2 separate regions of the Homo sapiens genome follow, and region 1 is linked to region 2. The links come from fine-mapping of genetic effects on gene expression. A gene starts in region 2. The other region holds a variant in brackets. All regions are shown on one strand. Distances are from middle to middle.

What was found.
Region 1: its variant is fine-mapped to the expression of CFAP36 in whole blood (INTERVAL, PIP above 0.99). The same link has a PIP of 0.9 or more in CD4 T cells, Th17 cells and Th2 cells.

The regions. Positions count from the first base shown.
Region 1 is chr2:55,646,985-55,659,029 of GRCh38, forward strand. PNPT1 (polyribonucleotide nucleotidyltransferase 1) reads right to left here. Exons shown (of 28, transcript NM_033109.5): 16 at 9,321-9,387; 17 at 9,147-9,236; 18 at 7,916-7,969; 19 at 363-469. Among named protein-coding and RNA genes, the nearest start is that of PPP4R3B-DT, 35 kb to the left of the region's middle. RefSeq lists an enhancer at 3,075-3,687. The variant TA/T (reference allele first, on the strand shown) is at 4,789.
Region 2 is chr2:55,514,238-55,526,282 of GRCh38, forward strand. CFAP36 (cilia and flagella associated protein 36) reads left to right here and starts at 5,481. Exons shown (of 10, transcript NM_080667.7): 1 at 5,481-5,679; 2 at 7,865-7,929; 3 at 9,484-9,585. The coding sequence starts at 5,565. RefSeq lists enhancers at 4,782-4,831, 6,012-6,261.

The DNA.
Region 1 (12,045 bases), 130 kb after region 2:
GCCACCATGCCCAGGCTAATTTTTGTATTTTTAGTAGAGATGGAGTTTTGCCACATTAGCCAGACTGGTCTGGAACTCCTGACTTCCCAAAGTGCTGGGATTACAGGCATGAGTCACTGTGCCTGGCCTATTACTATTAATATAATATCTATTTTAAATTCATATCCTATAAGATACAAGGTGAACATGCAGAGGAGGAAGGGAAGAACAAGTACCTGTTCTTCAAATACTAGCATTCTTCTAAGCATACGCTAGGTGCAAAGTACATATAGTCTTCACCATTATTTGTTTTTATCTTTTAATTTTTATTTATTTATTTTTAGTCTTCATTATTAAATATTTGAAACCGAGAATATACTTGCCAAAATATCTGTCAGCAAACGATAATCTTCTATTTCACCCTTCTCAGGATCGGTTTTGGTGACCAATCCTATTGCTACGCCTGCAACAGCAGATGAAATTGGAACCCCTATAATTGGGAAAAAGAACAACTGTGGGTAATGTGTACATGAGCCTAAAACAAATATTTATCTATCAATTTTTTTTTTTTTTTGAGAGGGAGTCTCGGTCTGTTGCCCAGACTGGAGTGCAGTGGCATGATCTTGGCTCACTGTAGCCTCTGCTTCCTGGGTTCAAGCAATCCTCCCACCTCAGCCTCCCCTATAGCTGGGATTATAGGCACCCGCCAACACGCCTAGCTAATTTGCTTGTATTTTTAGTGGAGATGGGGTTTCAACCATGTTGGCCCTGTTGGTCTTGAACTCCTGACCTCAGGTGATCTGCCAGCCTCAGCCTCCCAAAGCGCTGGGATTACAAGCGTGAGCCACCGCGCCCAGCAGACATTTACTTTTAATGTAAGTGGATATTGTTGCCTAAATTGACAATCACCGAAGCTGAGTTGGAAGTCTTAAGAGGTCATCTGACTACTTCGTTTGTTTTTGAACATATAATAAAGTTCCCTAAAACAATGTAAACAAGTACTATATCCAGCAAAAACTTCTCTAACAATAGCAAACTTTATAACTTTTAAATTATCCGTTGGTTTGCTTTTTTGCTTCAGGTGTCTTATTTTCTTTTTGTTGGAAAGTAAGCATCTATTTGGTAAATTCTTCCAGCCTGAACTCCTCAGTTTACCTCCCCATGGCAGCTAACATTAGTGTATCCTCCTAGAAAATTTCTGTGCACAAGTATAAATGTAAATATAATCTTTTGTTTTCTTTACTCGTGGCGGCAGACTGTATGCATTTACTGTTCTGCACCTTGCCTTTTTCACTTAATAACATGTCTTGGATATTGACACATACCACCACACAAAGCTCTACTTTATTCCTTTGAATAGTTTTAGTACTCCCTGTATGTTTTACAAGTCACACACAGAAGTGCGATTGCTGAGTCAAAAGGTATGTGCATTTACGTTTGTTAGACTGTCAAACTGCCTTCTAAAGACATAGCATTTTAAACTTTTACCAGTGGTGTAAGAAGGTATATGCTACTCTATATTCTTATTAATTCTTGTCAAATCTTTTGATTTTTCTCAATTTAAAGTGTAAAAAATGGTTATTTTAAATCTGACTTGTTTTTTATGACTGAGGTTGAAAACTATTTCATGTTCATAAACCTATTTATATGTCTTATTTTGAGAACTCCCTGTTCATGGCCTTCAACACTTTTCTACTTGGTTGGCAGTCTTTTTATTACTGATTTTCTTTCAATATGGACAGAGCTTTATTAAAATGTAAAGATAAAATATTATGTTTAATAACATATAAATAAAATATTTTATTTCCTAGTTCGTTGACTTTGCTTATGGTCATTAGTTTTCTGTGTAGGATTTTTAGTTTACGTAATCATGGTTTCTGGGTTTTGCTTAGCAGAGCTTTTCTTCTCCAAGATTTTGATAAAACCTACCATCTTTCATTTGTTTAAAAATGTTTAAGTTTTGATCACTTGGAATTTACTTTGGTATAAAGGAGTGTGGATCTCATTTCATTTTCTCTAAGCAACCTCATCTATACTTACGATTTTAACCACCATCTATAATGTTGATGACTTAAAAATCTATCCCTCCTGTCCAGCTATCTGTGCCAAACCCTGGACCTGTATTAGTAAACTCCCTGTCAGACATCTCCAGCTAAATGTCCCCAAAGCACCTTAAATATATATTCAAAATTGAGCCAGGCCCAGTGGCTCATGCTTGTAATCCCAACGCTTTGGCAGGCCAAGATGGGAGGATCACTTGAACTCAGGAATTTGAGACCAGCCTGGGCAATATATTGAGACCTCATCTCTATAAATAATAATAATGATGATGATGAAAGAAATACATATATGTTCAAAATTGAATCACTGTCAAAAAATCCTTTTCCTCCTGCATTCTTTGGTTGAAAGCAACTAAGACACTCATGCCAGAATCAACATTTCTTTCCTCATTTCCTATATCCCATCAAGTCACAAAGATCTGTTTATTTTTTTAGAAAGCTGTCCTTTACCCTAAATATTAAAATACCTATTGTAACTTTTTAGTCTGAGTCCATATCATTTCTTGCCCTGGCAACAATCTCCCTGTCTGGCTTCCCAGATTTTACTTTCTCTCTTTGCTTCTTAGTCTCTCCCATCTCATTCCGCAGGGCTATTCATCACTTAAGCTGGGAAAAACTGTTTGGAAAAAACAAAAGCAGATTCAAATCATGCCACTGTTTTCCATAAAATCCTTCAAGTTCCCCATTGCCTACTTTCAGGAAATTTTTGTACATATTCTGTGGTCAAATAAATTTGGAAAAATATTACATGTCCTATTCCTAGAGAGTCAGTATTCGGATTAGCTTATTAAAGTCTATTTAATCCATATTAAATAAACCTGCTTAACCCTGCTGAAACTTAACTTTAGAACAGAATAAACTTTTTCATGGTATACAATAATCAATGTCCTGTGGAACACTATTCCATGGAATACTGAATTGGAAAAATGCTGGCTTTAAGTCCAAACTCCTTAGCGTAACAATAACCTTCAGATTGTACAATGTGTGGCTTTCTTGAGGCACTGCCTCTCGAGTCCCTACCTCAAACTCCACTTCAAATAGGAGATTTTATGTTGGGGAAAGAAGGATTGGTAAAGAATTCTTACTTAAAAAAAATCCTGCCCTCTCTCCCTCTCTCCACCTCTACCTCTACCTCTACCTCTACCTCTACCCACGGTCTCCCTCTCCCTCTCTCCATGGTTTCCCTCTGATGCCGAGCTGAAGCTGGACGGTACTGCTGCCTGATTCTCCTGCCTCAGCCTGCCGACTGCCTGCGATTGCAGGCGCGCGCCGCCACGCCTGACTGGTTTTCGTATTTTTTTGGTGGAGACGGGGTTTCGCTGTGTTGGCTGGGCTGGTCTCCAGCTCCTAACTGCGAGTGATCCGCTAGCCTCGGCATCCTGAGGTGCCGGGATTGCAGACGGAGTCTCGTTCACTCCATGCTCAATGGTGCCCAGGCTGGAGTGCAGTGGCGTGATCTCAGCTCGCTACAACCTTCACCTCCCAGCAGCCTGCCTTGGCCTCCCAAAGTGCCGAGATTGCAGCCTCTGCCCGGCCGCCACCCCGTCTAGGAAGTGAGGAGCGCCTCTTCCCGGCCGCCATCCCATCTGGGAAGTGAGGAGCGTCTCTGCCCGGCCGCCCATCGTCTGAGATGTGGGGAGCACCTCTGCCCTGCCGCCCCGTCCGGGATGTGAGGAGCGTCTCTGCCCGGCCGCCCCGTCTGAGAAGTGAGGAGACCCTCCGCCCGGCAACCGCCCAGTCTGAGAAGTGAGGAGCCCCTCCGCCCGGCAGCCGCGCCGTCTGAGAAGTGAGAAGCCCCTCCGCCCAGCAGCCACCCCGTCTGGGAAGTGAGGAGCGTCTCTGCCCGGCAGCCACCTCGTCCGGCAGGGAGGTGGGGGGGTCAGCCCCCCGCCCGGCCAGCCGCCCCGTCCGGGAGGGAGGTGGGGGGATCAGCCCCCCGCCCGGCCAGCCGCCCCGTCCGGGAGGTGAGGGGCGCCTCTGCCCGGCCGCCCCTACTGGGAAGTGAGGAGCCCCTCTGCCTGGCCGGCCGCCCCGTCCAGGAGGGAGGTGGGGGGGTCAGCCCCCCCGCCCAGCCAGCCGCCCCGTCCGGGAGGTGAGGGGCGCCTCTGCCCGGCCGCCCCTACTGGGAAGTGAGGAGCCCCTCTGCCCGGCCAGCCGCCCCGTCTGGGAGGTGAGGGGCGCCTCTGCCCGGCCGCCCCTACTGGGAAGTGAGGAGCCCCTCTGCCCGGCCACCACCCCGTCTGGGAGGTGTGCCCAACAGCTCATTGAGAACGGGCCATGATGACAATGGCGGTTTTGTGGAATAGAAAGGGGGGAAAGGTGGGGAAAAGATTGAGAAATCGGATGGTTGCCGTGTCTGTGTAGAAAGAGGTAGACGTGGGAGACTTTTCATTTTGTTCTGTACTAAGAAAAATTCTTCTGCCTTGGGATCCTGTTGATCTGTGACCTTACCCCCAACCCTGTGCTCTCTGAAACATGTGCTGTGTCCACTCAGGGTTGAATAGATTAAGGGCGGTGCAAGATGTGCTTTGTTAAACAGACGCTTGAAGGCAGCATGCTCCTTAAGAGTCATCACCACTCCCTAATCTCAAGTACCCAGGGACACAAACACTGCGGAAGGCCGCAGGGTCCTCTGCCTAGGAAAACCAGAGACCTTTGTTCACTTGTTTATCTGCTGACCTTCCCTCCACTATTGTCCTGTGACCCTGCCAAATCCCCCTCTGTGAGAAACACCCAAGAATGATCAATT[TA/T]AAAAAAAAAAAAAAATTAAAAAAAAAAAATCCTATTTCTGTATAAAGCTATCCTTCCTCTGACTAGAAACAACTAGGAAATAAAGAGAAGACAAAGATAAAAAGGAAAGTCAAAAAAAAAAAAAAAAAAACAATAACCTTCAACATATGGTTCTACTTTATTACCTTAACACCTCTTTCGAGTAGATTCCTGAAACACACTACACTGTAACTTCTTAACTTTGCACATGCTGGTCCTTTCATGTGAAATACAGGCCCTGCTCCTAATATGCCCAGTCAACAATTACTCAGCCTTTAAAATCAGATGAAATGTAGCAGTCTCTCTCAGCCAATTATGCTCAGCCTAGTTCAACAATCACCCTTACACATATTTGTATTATTACCTCTTCAATCTATTAGTATCTTTTTGTTTTCAAACCTTTAAGCTTTTTCAAAAACTGGGTACAATTTGCATCCCTGGGGCATAGGACAGTGCCTGACTTAGGGCAGGGCAAGCCCTACTCTAGCAATTCAAATTCATATTTGAATTGAACTGCATACCTTGTATCGGCCCATCCCACAGGACTTGACATTCATTCTTATCAAATTTAATTTTTTTGAGGTTTTTGGCTTTAACGCTTCAAATTTAATTTTTAAACTATTAAGCTCCATATTTTTTTATCCTGCTCAATTTTGTCAGTCACCCATTCCTTTTAATCAGTATTTTTATTGGCAGTATTTTTACTGGCAGGCCAGTGTTCTCAGTCAAGTCAACATTGAAAGAGACAGGGCTGAAATAAGCATCCTCACGTCTTCAACTTGAGATCATTCTCTGACCTGTTGATCAGATTAAGCAGTCCCTTTGCTCATCCCTTAACCAGTATGAATGGTGCACCTATTATTTAGTCTAAATTTCTGCATCATTTACACAAGATATCATAAAGATATCATAAACCGTAAAGCTGAATTATAGATATATCACACCAACAGCAATACCCTCTACTGCAAATGCAGTAATTTCTTCAAAACAGAAAGTGAATTAACTATGGCATGACTTATTTTAGAGAAGTCCCTTCTGGCTTCTTTCTGTAGTCCCTTTCCTTTTTTGTTTTCTTGAGACAGAGTCACTCTGTTACCCAGGCTGGAGTGCAGTGGCACGATCTTGGCTCACTGCAGCCTCCGCCTCCTGGGTTAAAGTGATTCTCTTGACTCAGCCTCCCAAGTAGCTGGGATTACAGGCGTGGGCCACCACACCCGGCTAATTTTTGTATTTTTAGTAGAGACGGGGTTTCACTATGTTGGCCAGGCAGGCCTCAAACTCCTGACCTCAAGTGATCCACCCACCTCAGGCTCCCAAAGTGCTGCAATTACAGGAATGAGCCACTGTGCCTGGCCCCTTTCCTTTCTAAACTACTTATAAACCATTCTTTTTTTAAGTTCTTAAGAGTCTTGTTGAGGGTCACGATCAAGTTCATTGGGTTATACTTTATAGAAAATACTTTTCTTCTCTTCCAATAATAAGAACGTTTTCTGTCCTTGGGATACTAGTCTCCACGATTTCTCAATGACTGCCATCATACTTCAGTAATCTAATCCTGAAGTTCTCATTATAGTCAAGGATGAGTTTTTGTCTAGACCAAAAGATCTGAATTCATTTAAAAATGGCAGGTAAAGACTCCCCTATGATGTCATCTTTTATTTTTCAGTTTACTTTTTTCAAGATTTGTTCAGTGTTTTCCAGTATGAGATTTGGAAGACTGAGAAACACAAGTGCCATGAAGTCTAAGACTGTTTTGTTCATCACCATGTCCTAACAACTTAGATCAGTGCTTGGCACATAGGTGCCACAAAGTAAAGATTTGTAGAGTGAAAGAATGAAGATGAAAATAGTAGCAGCAGTATTTTACCAGCTACCTTAAATATCAGATTATGTTTTCCTTTATTGAATAAATTACAAAAGTACCTTTTGCATTTTTTGCTTTGGCCTGTTTTTAGTTTCAATTTTTCTAGATAATATTATTATATATTCAAACCATGTTTTCATTTAATCCTTTGTTATTCACGGCCCTCTTTTCTATCTTTCATGCCAGTACTGTAAATGTGTTAAGTTATCAGAGAAATCCTTTTGTGGCCTCTTTAGTGTCTTTAGGTTCCTTCTCTCTTTCTTCTCGAATAGCAGCATTCATGACAGTTTGGCACGAATTGGTTTTAAGAATCTCCTAGCGGCCAGGTGTGGTGGCTCATGCCTGTAATCCCAGCACTTTGGGAGGGCAAGGTGGGTGGATCACGAGGTCAGGAGTTCGAGGTCAGCCTGGCCAATATGGTGAAACCCCGTCTCGACTAAAAATACAAAAATTAGCCAGGCGTGGTAGCACGCACCTGTAATTCCAGCTACTCAGGAGGCTGAGGCAGAAGAATCACTTGAACCTGGGAGGCGGAGGTTGCAGTGAGCCGAGACTGCACCACTGCACTTCAGCCTGGACAACAGAGCGAGACTCTGTCTCAAAAAAAAAAAAAAAAAAAATCTCCTAGCATAATGCTTTCGTTTTTGGCGTTTCAGACCTGGGGATTATAATGAAACATTTGTAGTCCGCCTTCCTAAAATTGTGTGTACACGCCTGAGTGGCATTGTTCTCTTGGCTTGTATAAATCGACTGAAAGATTACAGTTGCTTTCTCTTATGATTCCTAATAGTACTTACTAATCAAAACTTCCTTGGTGATTGGAATCAATTCTGGAGCTCTCTACCTTTTGGAAGGAAATAAAGTTTACTGGGTCACCAATGCAAATAAAAATTTTTCAGTGTACTGCTTTTAGCTAAAAATAAGAATTCCAGCAGATATCTGGATATCTGAAGCTCTACTTTTCAGCCATCTTGCCTCTGGCTTGATTTGGCCATCTGTAATCTGACTTTGAGTTTTACTAAAACCCAAATTTAAAGAAATCTTATATTTTATACTAACAGGTGTGTATAAAAGGTTAGCATTTTTTTTTAATCTTTTTTGTAGAGATGAGGTCTTGCTATGTTGCCCAGGCTGGTCTTGAACTCCCAGCCTCAAGTGAGCCTCCTGCCTTGGCCTCCCAAGGCTCATGCCTGGGATTACAGGCATGAGCAATATCAGCAGTTTTGAGACATAATTCTTTTACCTGAATCCATTAATGCTAAACTTCCGCCACATGCAGATGCCATAGAAGATGACCCTATAGAAAGAAAAATAACTGCTTTATATTAAACTGATTTTTTTAATGTAGAAAAGTGTTACTATTGGTTATTTCCTTATAAATATTCAGTTACAATACAAATATTCAATAGTCTCTTCTTTTTAAAAGCAACTAAGGCAAGGTCTTTTAAGCTATAAACTATGGGGCTGCAAGGTCCAATATGGTAGACATTAGCCATAAGTGGTGACTTAAAGTTAAATCAATTAAAATAAATTTAATTCTTCAACTAGATAGGACAGATAAAGAGGATTTCTATCATCACAAAAAGTTTTATTTTACTATTATTTTTTGAGATGGAGTCTCAGCCTGCCACCACGCCCAGCTAATTTTTTGTATTTTTAGTACAGACAGAGTTTCACCAAGTTAGACCCTTTGGACCTTATGATCCACCCGCCTTGGCCTCCCAAAGTGCTGGGATTACAGGTGTGAGCCACCAAGCCCAGCCTATCACAAAAAGTTCTATTGCATAGTATTGCTACAGATATTCTAATAGACTTCCTAGTGCATATCTTTTGTCTTGCTTATCAGAAGTAGTTAAAGATATAGGGCTTTGGCTCTCTCATTCTCATAAGCCCATTAATTTAGTCACACCCAGTAGAGAACCACAAAGTCTTTAGTTAAAATTCTGAGTTTACCTTGGTATTTTTTCCTCAAAATCTGTGACTATCTGATTTACGTCTGTTACACCTTTAAGAACTCCATGACCTTTCTGCCTTTAATGACTGCACCGTACCTTGACCCATGGACAAATTTTTTATTTAAATGTGACCTCTTGGCCTAGACTCCCTCTGTGATGTACACTTATTATTCATGTGGATATGTGACAGGTATCTCCTGCCTAATGATCACTCTATTTTGGCCCTTCCTCTCTCTGTTAACCTTGTTCTGTGGTTTGTTTGTAAAAATAAAGAAACAAGCCAAACTGGATCTACTATAACAGATAAAGAAAAACATTTGTTTTATATTGCTTTCAAAACAACTCATTAGCTAAGAACAGAGATTAAGACAAGTATTTGATTAACTCAATACATTTTTCTCTTGCAACAAACTTGGGTTCTGTAGTAATAAACAAAATGTAACATTACATTTGAAAACTTAATAATAGAATAGGGAATATGGTCTTTTCTACTATGAAAGAAGTATTTCAATACCATACCATTTGACTCTAGGACTTCAGATGTAACTCTTATGGTGAAAGGAAAATCTCGGGGAATAACAGGATACAAAGCTTTCTCAGCAAGAGCACCTAAATTAGAATAGAAAACAATAAGTAAAAAATGTATTAAGTCTCTGTAAGAATACCGTATTAAGTTTACAGACCTGTACTTACCATGCCCAAGTTCTCTTCTATTTAAACCAGTGACTTTGCCAATTTCATTAGTTGCATAAGGAGGAAACTTAAAAAAAAAAAAACACAAACACACATATACAATTGACATAGAAAGATGTCCAAGTTATATTACCAAAATAATAAAACAACTTATAGAACAGTAGAATCTCATTTTTGTTTTTTAAAAAAGTACATTCATAAATATACAGAAAACGTATGATATAAATTTAACATACATACCAAATGGTTAAAAGTAGCTATTTCAAGTGTGTACATGGATTAGGATGTGGGAACTGGATGGGTATGGGGATTTACACCATAAATTTCCATTACATTTAAATTATTAACAATAACGTTATATTTTTGTAATAAGTAAAAATATGTACATATTTAAAAAGTACACATTGAAGAATCACAGATTTTTTTCCATAGCAAAGCCCACATTTATTTCACTAAATTGAAATTTAATTTACACTGATACTTTTTAGAGTTATCTCTCTCCACTAACTTTTTCAGATATGAAACAAAATACATGAATGGGAAAGTTGCATATTTTGAAGTATTTCTCAAGCAAAACACAATGACAAAAATGTATGGAGGAAACAGCTCTTTTCCATAAGGGTTTTATTTTAGCCAGTGGTTGCAAACTGTTTTATTTGGTGGATATGTTACCTTGAAGGAATATGAATTAGTTGTGATCATTTGACAATAGGAAGACTTCCCATAAAAATCTGTAATTTCAGGCCGGGCGCAGTGGCTCATGCCTGTAATCCCAGCACTTTGGGAGGCCAAGGCAGGCAGCTCACTTGAGCTCAGGAGTTTGAAACTAGCCTGGCCAACATGGTGAGACCCTGTATCTACTAAAAATAGAAAAATCAGCAGGGCGTGGTGGCGCATGCCTGTAATCCCAGCTACTCATGAGGCTGAGGCACAAGAATTGCTTGAACCCAGGAGGTGGAGGTTGCAGTAAGCCGAGACTGCACCACTGCACTTCAGCCTGTGGAACAGAGACCCTTTTTTTAAAACAGAAAAAAAAAATTCCCCCAAATATCTGTAATTCCAGATTAACAAGAATTTTTTTTTTGTTTTTTCTTTTTTTTTAAGACAGAGTTCTGCTCTTGTTGCCCAGGCTGGCGTGCAATGGTGCAATCTCGGCTCACTGCAACCTCTGCTTCTGGGTTCAAGCGATTCTCCTGCCTCAGCCTCCCAAGTAGCTGGGATTACAGGCATGCACCACCATGCCCAGCTAATTTTGTACTTTTAGTAGGACAGAGTTTCACCATGTTGGTCAGGCTGGTCTTGAACTCCTGACCTCAGGTGATCCGCCCGCCTCGGCCTCCCAAAGTGCTGGGATTACAGGCATGAGCCACCGCTCTTAAATGCAGTGGATGGAGCAGGAATCTGATTAAACCTCTGGATCTAGCGGTCAATTTGCAGGAAATAGAGAGGGGGGAGGAACATGTTGAATTGCACCATGAGTGTACAATCAGCAACACCCAGACTGTGGGAGACTATAAGTCAAATGGCTATGGGGCTTCAATAGATAGACTGCAAAAAAAAAAAAAAAAAAAAAAAAAAAAAAAAAAAAAAAAAAAAAAAGAATGTAATGGAGGAGAAATGTATAGATTTAAAAAGACTTAAAGAAATATCAGGCCGGGCATAGTGGCTTATGTCTGTAATCCCAGCACTTTGGGAGGCTGAGGCAGGCAGACTGCTTGAGCCCAGGAGTTTGAGACCAGCCTGGACAACATGGCAAAACCCCATTTTGTAAAAAATCTAAAAATTAGCGGGGTGTGGTGGTGCCTGTAGTCCCAGCTACTTGGGGGACTGAGGCAGGAGGATCACTTAAGCCTGGGAGATGGAGGTTGCAGTGAGCCAAGATGGTGCCACTGCACTCCAGCCTGAGTGACAGAGTGAGACTCTGTCTCAAATAAACTAAAACAAAAAAGGAAATACCAAATGTTTTAAAGAAAAAAACAAAACTAAACTATAGTATCTAAAAATGGAGCCAGGAAATCCAAGATGATTACTGTAAAACTTAGGAGAGTAGTTACCTACTTTTAAGAGACGACGGGTATTGAGATTGGGATGAAGAACATGGAGGGGCTTTTGAGGTGGCTGGCAATGTTAAATTTCCTGACTTGGGTGGTGGTTACAAGGATATTTGCCTTATAAAAATGTATTAAGCCATCCTTTGTTTTATACAGTTTTCAGTACCTATGCTTTATTTTATAATAAAGAGATTCACAAAAATAAAATATGGCAATAATGGCCCATATCCTTCTCCAGCTCCCTCCCCAACCCCCTTACCCAATAATCAGCTAGACCTCCATTTTGCACAGCTGCCCTTTTAAGACTGCCATGTGCTCTCCAGCTCATGACAAAGAACCTGCTTTACTCAATTATAATTCCTTTCTGGCTTCTGTAGCACCAGGCTATATCCAGAACAGGATATTTATAAGGGATTCAAGACCTGTATGAATCTTGATGTTTATGGATATTCTGTAGCATATAATTTCTACAAAAAAATGTTCTCTATTGATTACAGCAGATTCAGCAAGAGTGAAATGCTGAGACTCTGGGCAGCCAACAAGGGTTACACAAAAACGAAATGACTTGCTACTTTACATAAGTCTCTCATGTTGTATTCTTTTTCTTTTTATTTTTTGAGACAGGGTCTCACTCTGTTGCCCAGGCTGAAGTGCGGCGGAGTGATAATGGCTTG
Region 2 (12,045 bases):
TCCTGCTCTTGAAAGCTGAATTCATTAGTGACGTTCTATACGGTCTATAAATTATTTTTTAAAATAACACTTCCATTGTGTGGGTATTTTTAAGCCTATTGCTAATAGTTACTTTAAGCCCTCTGATCTAGAATGTAAGCATGTTTTGTTAGTGTTAAAACAAAATGAAATCCTGTTTTGCAGTAGTTACAACTTTACCATCTCTCCCAGGGGCAGCAAAGATAAATAGATTATTTTTAGGCAAATGTAAGGCACTATATTCTTAGATTATCATTCAGATATTCATCAAATATTCAATGAGGGTTTCTCAGTGCCAAACATTGTGTTGGAGTTGGAGATCCACTCGTGAAATTAATGAGTCAGCCTCCTCCAGAATTCACAATAGTCTTTCCTTGATTAATTTTGCAATATCCAAACTATCTGAGATATATCTGTGCATGTGTATGGATGTGTAGACTCATGAATATAAAACACTACTATAAAAAAGATAACTACTTAACATTTAACCATGATTATTGTAGGAGGTGCAATACTTAACTCTTAAAAAAAGTAAGTAGAAGTATCTTTAAAAGCCGCATAATGTGTGATTCAACAATTCTACTTTTAGGAATTCATCTTCACAAAATGATAAAGGTTAGTGGCAAATATTTAATTACAAGGGTGCTCATAGTAGAATTATTATTATTGTTGTTATTATTATTATTTTAAGACAGGGTCTCACTCTGTTGCCCAGGCTGGAGTACAGTGGTGTAATCAGAGCTCACTGCAGCCTCCAACTCCTGAATTCAAGCAATCTTCCCATCTCAGCCTCCTGAGTAGCTGAGACTACAGGTGCTTGCCACCATTCCTGGATAATTTTTTTTTTTCTTTTGCAGAGGCAGGGTCTCGCTATGTTTCCCAGGCATATTTTTTTAAAAAGTGCAAGAAACATCTTAGATCAATGCAGGATTGCTTACATAAATTATGATCACACAATGGGAAACTAGGTAATATTAAAAAGGATTATGTAGAAGTGTTTTCAATGATGTGGAAAAAATTCCATGATATATCAGAAAGTGAAAATTAGAAGTTTCCTTGTTGCTTAGGTGTCTAGTACAGAAAACAAGTCCTGACTGTGCTCTGAGCCTGGGCAAGACACTTGACCTCACAGACTCAGTTCTTCCATCTGTTAATGTGTGGAATTTGTGTTACCCTCAAATTCATATGCTGAAGTGATAGTCCACAGTGCCTCAGAATGCGATATTTGGAGATAAGGTTTTTAAAGAGGTAATTAAGTTAAAATGAGGTTATTAGGGGGCCTTAATCCAATATGACTGATATGCTTATAAGAAACGGAGATTAGTACATAGGCTGTATAGGGGTAAGACCAGGTATAGACACAGGGAGAAGACAGCCATCTGCAAGCCAAGACGAGAAGCCTCAAAGGAAACCAACCCTGCCAATAACTTGATCAGAGACATAGACTTCAGAACTTTCAGAAAATAAATGTCTGCCGCTCAAGCCACCCAGTCTGTGGTAATTTGTTATAGCAGTCCTAGCAAACTAATACACCATTTAAAAGAGGGAGAAAATCTTAATATCATCTTTATTTAGCTCACAAGTTTGCTGTAAGTCAAATAGATGTAATCTCTTTGTAAACTGTAAAGTACTATATAAATGTGAATAATTGTTATTCACAAGGTCCTTGAAAATGCAGTCATGTTGTTACGATTTGAATTTTATATTCCTTTAGTAGGGCAGACACTCAGTATCAGTACAGGGGATGGGGAGAAGCAAGAGATTTCCTAGGGCTGCAGCAAAAAACACAAATGATTTGTCATTGAAAGAAGAGGCAAAATAAAATGAATAGTTCCTTGCATTCATGCTGCAAATTTTTAAGCAAACCGATACCTAAACTACATACAATAACAATATCTAATATGTATTAAGCATTTACTAAGTACCTAGCATAATCCCAAGTACTTTTAATATGTGTTCTCAGCCAGGCGCGGTGGCTCACGCCTGTAATCCTAGCCTTTATCAACCCCATGGTAAAAGTGCTTGGTGTGTGTATGTGTGTCATGTACTGTGTATATATATTTATTTATGTGTGTGCATCTATTTTAGTTTTGTTACATGTATCTTTTTTTTTTTTTTTTGGAGACAGGGTCTCACTCTGTTGCCCAGGGTGGAGTACAGAGGTGCAATATCGGCTCACTGCAACCTCTGTCTCCAGGTTCAAGCGATTTTCCTGCCTCAGCCTCCCAATTAGCTGAGTACAGGCGCCCATCACCACGCCAAGCTAATTTTTAGTAGAGACGAGGTTTTGCCATGTTGGGCAGGCTAGTCTCAAACTCCTGACCTCAAGTGATCCACTCACCTTGGCCTCTCAAAGTGCTGGGATTACAGGCATGAGCCACCGCACCCGGCCTGTTATACATATCTTTAACATTAAAATTTGTTCCTATGTGGTAAGAACAGTAAAAGGAGTAATAAAATTGCCAAAATAAGTTGTGATTTTCCAAGAGATGACTGTGCTTTGCATTACTGTGAAACACTGAAAACACTGCTAAATGACCTATGCGTAACACACACCCATGCTATCTTCTTACTCTTGCCCCAGTACATCCATATGCATTGCTCTAACAGTGTGCAAGCTGTTCTTCTGAGTTTATTTTATGATAAGCGTATTGAATACATTATCTCAAATCTGTGTAAGCATCCTGCTTATAAGAATCTCAAGCAATGAATAAAAAGAAAAGCCTTATGTTTTAAGGAGAAAATGAAATAATAAAATATTTTGAAACAAATGAGAGAACTTGCAGGCCTGAAGGAATCCACATTGCCCATTTAGATTTAGAGATTTAGAAACAAGGCTAAGAAAATAAAAGAAAGGAAAACTCTTACATCATAGTTATCTGCTTCCAGTGGAATTGAGAAGCATTTGGAAGAGACTGAAGACAAAGAAAGACTCTAATGCTGAACAATGAGTGTGGATGAGGCCGGGCGTGGTGGCTCATGCCTGTAATCCCAGCGCTTTGGGAGGCCGAGGTAGGCAGATCACTTGAGGTCAGGAGTTTGAGACCAGCCTAGCCCGGCCAACATAGTGAAACCCTGCCCGTACTAAAAATACAAAAATTAGCCAGGCTTGGTGGCGGGTGCCTGTAATCCCAGCTCCTTGGAAGGCTGAGGCAGGAGAATCGCTTGAACCCGGGAGGTGGAGGTTGCAGTGAGCGAAGATGTCACCACTGCACTCCAGCGTGGGTGACAGAGCGAGACTCTGTCTCGAGAAAAAAAAAGGGCTGTGGGGGGGGCTATCATTTTAACCTAGTAGATTGGCAAAGACTATTTTTTAAAAATATTTAAAATAGGGAGCCCGAGGCGGGCAGATCACGAGCTCAGGAGATCGAGACCATCCTGGCTACTAACATGGTGAAACCCCGTCTGTACCGAAAATACAAAAAATTACCCGGGCGTGGTGGCGGGCGCCTGTGGTCCCGCCTACTCGGGAGGCTGAGGCAGGAGAATGGTGCGAACCCGGGAGGCGGAGCTTGCAGTGACCCGAGATTGCGCCACTGCACTCCAGCCTGGGCGACAGAGCGAGACTCCGTCTCAAAAAAAAAAATAATAATAATAATTAAAATAATTAGTTCAGTAATTTTCCCATGAGAATTTGTTCGAGGGAAATAATGAGACTAGGGTTCAAAAACATATGTGCAAGTATATTCATTACACAATTGTTTACGGGTTTAAAAAATTCAAGTAATTTAATGTAGCAGTTGAGGTTTGGTCAAATTAACCAAGATATATATTCTTTCATTTAGCAATTCTGCTGGAATCTATCCCTTGGAATAGTAAATAAAACCAACAGTTCTCAGGATGCAACATTTATAACAGCAGTTTGTGGAAGCAAAAAATGGCAAATCCACAGCACGGAGGAGGAAAAAGAAAAAAATTGCACATGGCCAGGCACGGTGCCTCACGCCTGTAATCCTAACTCTTTGGGAGGCCGAGGCAGGCGGAACACCTGAGGTCAGGAGTTCGAGGCCAGCCTGGCCAACATGGCGAAACCCTGTCCCTACTAAAACTACAAAAATTAGCTGGGTGTGGTGGCACATGCCTGTAATCCCAGCTACTCTGGAGGCTGAGGCACAGGAGAATCTCTTGAACCCAGAAGGCTAAGGTTGCAGTGAGCTGAGGTCACGCCACTGCACTCCAGCCTGGGCGACAGAGCGAGACTCTGTCTAAAAAAAAAAAAAAAAAAAAGGCACATAATGATCATCTTCATGCATTCAGGTAAGATACTGTGTGCACATTCACAAAATAAAAATAGACTAAAGGATGGTTTATGGAATACTATGCAGTTGCAAAGAAAGCACAAATTTATATTTTTAAAAGATAAAGATATAAGAAAAAAATTCATAACTGTACATATAATCCTATTTATGTAAAAAATATATATATATATATGGTTGTCTGAAGATATTTTGGGACTCCAAACACCTTCACAATGACCACTGAAGACCCCATTCCACAATGGACTCCACCTAAATGCTGAGTTGGAGTTATAATAAGATTTGGTTACCAAGGCATTTATTTAAGTGAGTATTAACTTTGCTCTTGCCCTTGAAAAGCTCCTAATTCTAGTTATCTTTATCCAAGCGTAAGAGATTAAAGACCCGCCTGAAGATACAGATGCAAACTGACCGTAAGACAATCAGCGAGTCTCACACAGCTCGGCTTTGTATTTTCAGACAACCCTTTAATTACAAACGCCTCTGGGCCAATGGTCTGAAAATGGTTGGGACTGAGGTGCTGGGGATACAATGATGAACTGCAGCCGCTGAAGCCCTGTCAGGTGGAGACCCGGTTACCTCAGACCCTCACTGAGCCTTTTCTTTTTTCTTTTCTTTCTTCCTGTTTTTCTTTTGAGACGCAGTCTCCCAGGCTGCAGTGCAGTGGCTCACTGCAACCTCGGCTTCCCGGGTTCAAGCGATTCTCCTGCCTCAGCCTCCCGAGTACCTGGGATTACAGGCGGCGCCACCACGCCAGGCTAATTTTTGTATTTTTGGTAGAGACGAGGTTTCACCATGTTGGCCAAGCTGGTCTCGACCTCCTGACCTCAGGTGATCCGCAAGCCTCGGCCTCCCAAAGTGCTGGAATTACAGGCGTGAGCCACCGCGCCCGTCTACTGCGCGTTTTCTAAACCTTGGCTCCTACGCATTTATCAGAAGAGAGAGCGCAATCTGTCTATGACTTCCAGCCAATAGCTACACTTCTTTTCTCAGCCCTCGTCCACTGTTCTTTTTTAACCAATCAGAAACGTTTTTCAAACGTTTGCCCTCCCCGCTAAGTGCGCAGGCTCCTGGAAAGTTGTCTTCACTTCCGGGCCGCGGTCTAGGGCGGCTACGTGTGTTGCCATAGCGACCATTTTGCATTAACTGGTTGGTAGCTTCTATCCTGGGGGCTGAGCGACTGCGGGCCAGCTCTTCCCCTACTCCCTCTCGGCTCCTTGTGGCCCAAAGGCCTAACCGGGGTCCGGCGGTCTGGCCTAGGGATCTTCCCCGTTGCCCCTTTGGGGCGGGATGGCTGCGGAAGAAGAAGACGAGGTGGAGTGGGTAGTGGAGAGCATCGCGGGGTTCCTGCGAGGCCCAGACTGGTCCATCCCCATCTTGGACTTTGTGGAACAGAAATGTGAAGGTAAAAACCAGAGCCCGAACCGACAATCCTTTTCTCCTCTCTCACACCAGCGGCGGGCAGGGGGTTGGTAACCACAAGCCATCTCTCGTCTCCCCGACCCCCTGTCTCCACCCCTGTCGCAAGGTCTCGTTCCCCTCACCACCTTCTCCACCCGCGTCATCAGGTTTAGAGCTGGTTGTGTGGGAGGAATTCCTTTCACCCTGCCAATGTGTTCCTTCGCAGACCTGAAAACGGGGACCGAGACTCCCCTTCTCTGGGGCCGAAGCGCACGTCCGAAGAACATTAGACTTGAATCGTAAATTCGGTCTCTCACCCTGTCCCGAACGTTTCTGCCCTCGGCAGGTGGACTGTTTGGCTGGGCTTCTTCAACAGCTTTGCCAGACTTGAGAGGAGAAGCGTCGGTTTACCTGAGTTCCTTATGATCCCTAGCATTTCGCCCGGTGTAGTCAGCTTAGGAAATGAGAAATGATTTCACTCCAAACCAACAGTTAACTGCAAAGGAGGGCATGTGATAACTCCAGGAAGCCCAGAGCCGGTGATTTTGGTGGCCTGTGTTCCCCTTGGTGAGCTCTCTACTCTTCGCTATACCAAAAATTGGCGAGGTGGGGCAGGACCATTCTTGGAACAAATGAGGCGTATAGATATGGCATAATATTCCCCGTGAAGGACAGGCATCTCCGGGTTCTGAGCAGTTCTTCAGGCTTGGAGTTCTGCATTCAGTTCGTGGAGACTATTTGCAGCCCATTCGCAGAAAAGGAACCAGAAACCACGTCATATAAATGAGTGCCCAAGCGTTATTGTGGTTGTTTAATCGGGCAAGACTTTGAGGGTAGTAGTATTCATCAATTATTTGAACATCTGCTTTGTGTTGTAAGGTTGAGTAGAATAGAGCTAGGGTCAGTTGGTACAAGCTACAGGGAAACAAATTTCAGTGAAGGAAGTGTTTCATGATAGAATGTATCCAAGATGAGTTAGCCAGCCTCAGAAGGTAATGAGCTTCCCGGCTCCAGCAGTGTTTGAATGGATCTGATAGCGACTTAATAGGGTTAGAGGGATTCAGCTATTCAGCTATCAAATGGTCGGTTATCCTGGATGACCTTTTAAGACTTCTTTAAATTCCAAGATATCATGAATCTGGTAAAGATGAAATTCAGTTTGACCACTGAATCTTTTCATTACATTTTCATTGCTATAATCAATATTCAAATCGTAGTTATTAAAGTGTTATTTTTACAGGTAATTTTTTAACAATGTTCAAAAACAAAATAACTTGTATTTGTACTCCTTTTTTTTTTTTTTTTTTGGGAGACAGAGTGTCGCTCTGTTGCCCAGGCTGGAGTGCAGTGGCGTGATCTTGGCTCACTGCATTGTTTTATACATATGATCATTCAGTAAACACTTGTTTTGATTTTATTTAACTTCATTATTTATCTGTGGTAACAAAAATTGCCTGGTCACTTTCAGTAACATTTACATCAGCAAAATTCCAGTACAATAAAATAATATGGAACCTATTGTAAAAGGATTTAACCATTAACAATAATATTACATTAAAAGTTATGAAGAAATTATTGCCTCATATTGATTGAAATGTGTTTTTGTCTTAAATATGAGGTAGTATTCATTTTAAATATTTTCTCAAGTAGGCAAAAAAGCTTGTTTACAATTAATAGTATATATGTGTGTGTGTGTGTGTGTGTGTGTGTATATTTTTTTTTCTTTTTTTTTTTTGAGATGGAGTCTCACTCTGCCGCCCAGGCTGGAGTGCAGTGGTGCAATCTTGGCTCACTGCAACCTCCGCCTCCTGGGTTCAAGCAATTCTCTTGCCTCAGCCTCCCGAGTAGCTGGGTCTACAGGCGCGCACAACCACGCCTGGCTGATTTTTGTATTTTTAGTAGAGATGGGATTTCACCACATCAGCCAGGCTGGTCTCGAACTCCTGATCGTAGGTGATCCACCCACCTTGGCCTCCGAAAGTGCTGGGATTACAGGCATGAGCCACAGTGCTCGGCCAATAGTATATATTTTTAGATATATTCATTTATATATTTTTAAAAGATAAACCCTAAGAATTCAAAGCTGAAGAGCTAGGTTGACAGTTCTATTTGGAAGGAGTGGATTTTTAAATTTGCATTAATAAAATGATTTGGTTTTTACACTATGTAATATTTTCTTTTAAATTTAGTTTTTGATGATGAAGAAGAAAGCAAATTGACCTATACAGAGATTCATCAGGAATACAAAGAACTAGTGAGTATTTTTTTTCACTGATTTTTAAAAGTAATTAGGCTAATACTACTTATAGCTTTTCTAAATGAAGAAAAATATTTTTACATTAAAAATCCTTAATTTTACAAAAATCCAATCTACCTTAACAATAGTGCCAGTTATATCTGTCTCCACAGGTGCTCTGAATATCTCATTTGGATGACTTATCTCCTCTACTCTAAGGAATGGTTTTACAACTCTTTATGGGTTCTTGCATGTATTCTTTATATCTTATTCTTATTTTGTTGACGCATCCAGGGACATATTAATTATTCACTTCGTCATGGTTGTCATGTGATTTTTTTATTTTTTATTTTTGAGACAGGGTCTTGCTCTGTCACCCAGGCTGGAGTGCAGTGGCACTATCACAGCCTATTGCAGCCTCAACCTCCCCAGGCTCAAGCGATCCTCCCATCTCAGCCACCTGAGTAGCTGGGACTACAGGTGTGCACCACCATGCCCTGCTAATTTTTTTGTATTTTGTAGAGATGGCGTTTCTCTGTGTTTCCCAGGCTGGTGTGGAACTCCAGAGCTCAAGTGATCCACCTGCCTGGGCCTCCCAAAGTGTTGGGTTTACAGGTGTGAGCCACTGCCCAGCCTGTCTTGTGATTTTAAAAAATGCCTCTGGCAGTGGGGCTCAGTGGCTCACACCTATAATCCCAGCACTTTGGAGGCCAAGGCAGGTGGATTGCTTCAGCCAAGGAGTTCGAGACCAGCCTGGGCAACATGGTGAAACTCCATCTTTATAAAAATTACAAAAATTAATCAGTCATGATGGCATGTGCCTGTAGTCCCAGTTGCTTGGGAGGCTGAAGTGGGAGGATGATCTCTTGAGCCCAGAAGGTCAAGGCTGCAGTGAGCCATTACTGTGCCACTGTACTCCAGTCTGGACAACAGAGTAAGACTCTGTCTCAAAAAAAAAAAAAAGAAAGAAAGAAAGAAAAGGCCAGGCGTGGTGGCTCATGCCTATAATCCCAGCACTTTGGGAGGCCAGGGCAGGCGGATCACCTGAGGTCAGGAATTCGAGACCAGCCTGACCAACATGGTGCAACGCCATCTCTACCAAAAAAAAAAAAAAAAATTAGTCGGGCATTGTGGCAGGCGCCTCTAGTCCCAGCTACTCAGGAAGCTGAGGCAGGAGAATTGCTTGAGCCTGGGAGGCAGAGGTTGCAGTGAGCCGAGATCGTACCACTGCACTCCAGCCTGGGTGACAGAGTGAGACTCCATCTCAAAAAAGAAAGAAAAGAAAAGAAGAAAAAAAAATGCCTCTGGGTAGCAGAAGAGTTGTACCACATTGAACTTCATAATCCTGACTTCAACTATTTCTATTAGAAGAAATACAATTTCATGTGATTTTCAGCAAAAATATTAACTTTTAATTTGTGTTTTGGTGAAAGACAATGTCACTGTCATGTAATATGTAGATTAATATTTGCAAAAAATTCGATGATACTTTTCTAAACTAAATACTTAATATGCAAACTGTCATGTAGAATTTTTCTATGTAATTATAAAAGTTAAACTTTGTTTTTTTAGGTTGAAAAGCTGTTAGAAGGTTACCTCAAAGAAATTGGAATTAATGAAGATCAATTTCAAGAAGCATGCACTTCTCCTCTTGCAAAGACCCATACATCACAGGTTTTTGCTTTGTGTTATTCTGCTAACATACAGTTTTAACAAATGCCCAGGGTTAAACACTCACTTAAATTTGAATGTTTGATTGACAAAGTGTAATATTTTAGACATTGTGAGAGGTAGAAAGATAATTCATCACATATGAGTTCTTTTTGAGAGCAACCCTGAAAAATGATAATTTGAGGCATTAATGAACTGATGCAACTCAAAGTGACCTTTCTAAACTCAGAACTAGAATAAGATCACAGGGTTTATACAAACTACTGTTTTATTTACATAGATCTCCAATAATTCTGCAGTTGCTCCTTTTATAATTTTAGCAGATCCACAGTCAGTAGTTCCTGCTGCTGCTTCCTTCTCTTGGAACTACTTGTATTATCTTACTGGTTGTGTAGTGCTAGGCTGAAGTAGTAATACATATGTTATAAACTAATGTTTGTTTTTGTTGTTTTTTTGATATGGGGTCTCACTCTATTGCTCAGGCTGGAGTTTAGTGTGATTGCAGCTCATTATAGGCTCAACATCCCTGGGCTCAGGTAATCCTCCCATCTCAACTTTCCTGGTAGCTGGGACTACAGGTGCCGCACCAGCACACATGGCTAATTTTTTTTTTTTTTTTTTTTTTTTTGTAGAGACAGGGTCTTGCTGTGTTGTCCAGGCTGGTCTTGAATGCTGGGCTCAAGGGATTTGCCCATCTTGGCCTCCCAAAGTGCTAGGATTACAGGCATGAGCCACCACGCCCAGCCTGTAAACTAATGTTTATTGAGGGCTTGTGCTAATTGATATTTTGGGCACTTGACATGTTTTATCTCATTTAATCTTCCTGACACCTCTTAAGAAACTGCTACTATATAACTTCCATTTAGAAATGAGGAAACCAGGCCCGGAGTAGTGGCTCACGCCTGTAATCCCAGTACTTTGGGAGGCCGAGGCGGGCAGATCACCTGAGGTCGGGAGTTCGAGACCAGCCTGACCAACATGGAGAAACCCCGTCTCTACTAAACATACAAAATTAGCTGGGCATGGTGGCACATGCCTGTAATCCCAGCTACTTGGGAGGCTGAGGCAGGAGAATCCCTTGAACCCGGGAGGCGGAGGTTGTGGTGAGCCAAGATCGCGCCATTGCACTCCAGCCTGGGCAACAAGAACAAAACTGTCTAAAAAAAAAAAACAAAAAAGAAATGAGGAAACCAAAGCACAGATATATTAAGCAAATAGTCCAAAGTCCACAGCTAAATAAGTAGTAGAGCCAGTATCCCCAGCCCAGGCAAGCCAACTGAGTGCCCTTGCTCAGAGGGTGAGGATTGGGATATGTTGCTACTACCCAAGTAGCCTTTTGCTCAAAAACTGAAGGCCAGGAAGTGGCTCATGCCTATAATCCCAGCACTTTGGGAGACCAAGACAGGAGGATTGCTTGAAGCCAGGGGTTCGAAACCAGCCTGGACAACATAGTGAGACCCCATCTTTAAAAAAAATATAAAAGTTAGCTTGTTGTAGGTTGTGGTGGTGTTCTCCCCAGAGTACCTACTCAGGATGCTGAAGTAGGAGCATCACTTGAGCCTAGGAGGTTGAAGCTGCAGTAAGACAAGATCATGCCACTGTACTCCAGCCTGGGCAACAGATTAGGACCCAACCCCAAAAAACAAAACATTGGCTTTGGCATCTCATCTTCTACTAAATAAACTGTAATTTCTTAGCAAGATATGGTAAGAATTGTTTAAGATGAGACTCCAGATTGTATTTTTAGCCATGATCCCTTGCTATAGTTCTCCAATACATTATGTTCTACTGCCATTCCAGGTAACTTGCTCTCTTTTTTTTTTCTTTTGAGATAGAGTTTCGCTCTTGTTGCTCAGGCTGGAGTGCAATGGCACAATCTCGGCTCACTGCAACCTCCGTCTCCTAGGTTCAAGTGATTCTCCTGCCTCAGCCTCCCAAGTAGCTGGGATTACAGGCTCCCACCACCATGCCCGGCTAAGTTTTTGTATTTTTAGTAGAGGCAGGGTTTCACTATGTTGGCCAAGCTGGAACACCTGACCTCAGGCGATCCACCCGCCTCGGCCTCCCAAAGTGCTGGGATTACAGGCGTGAGCCACCACGCCCTGCTGCCCCTTGCTCTTATAAGCATCTGTACACCTACCTTTGCTCATGCTGTCCCTTAACCTGGAATGTATGGTCCCCTCCCCAGACCACTCCATCATTCCTTTCATAATGCGGAGAAATCCTCATTATCAGGGCCTGGTTGAAATGCTACTTGTTATAGCAGCTTTGCTGCTTATTCTAAAGTCAGACCAGAATTCAATCTACTTAACTAGGCCAATTGTAAATTGATATTTTTGTTACTCTGCCTTGAATTATAGTTTCCTACAAGTCTATTTGCCCTACTAAATTGTAAGTCCTTTGAGCTGTGTTTAGTATATTTGCATTCCCTGCTGGTAGAACAGAGATGAAAACTTAGTTGCT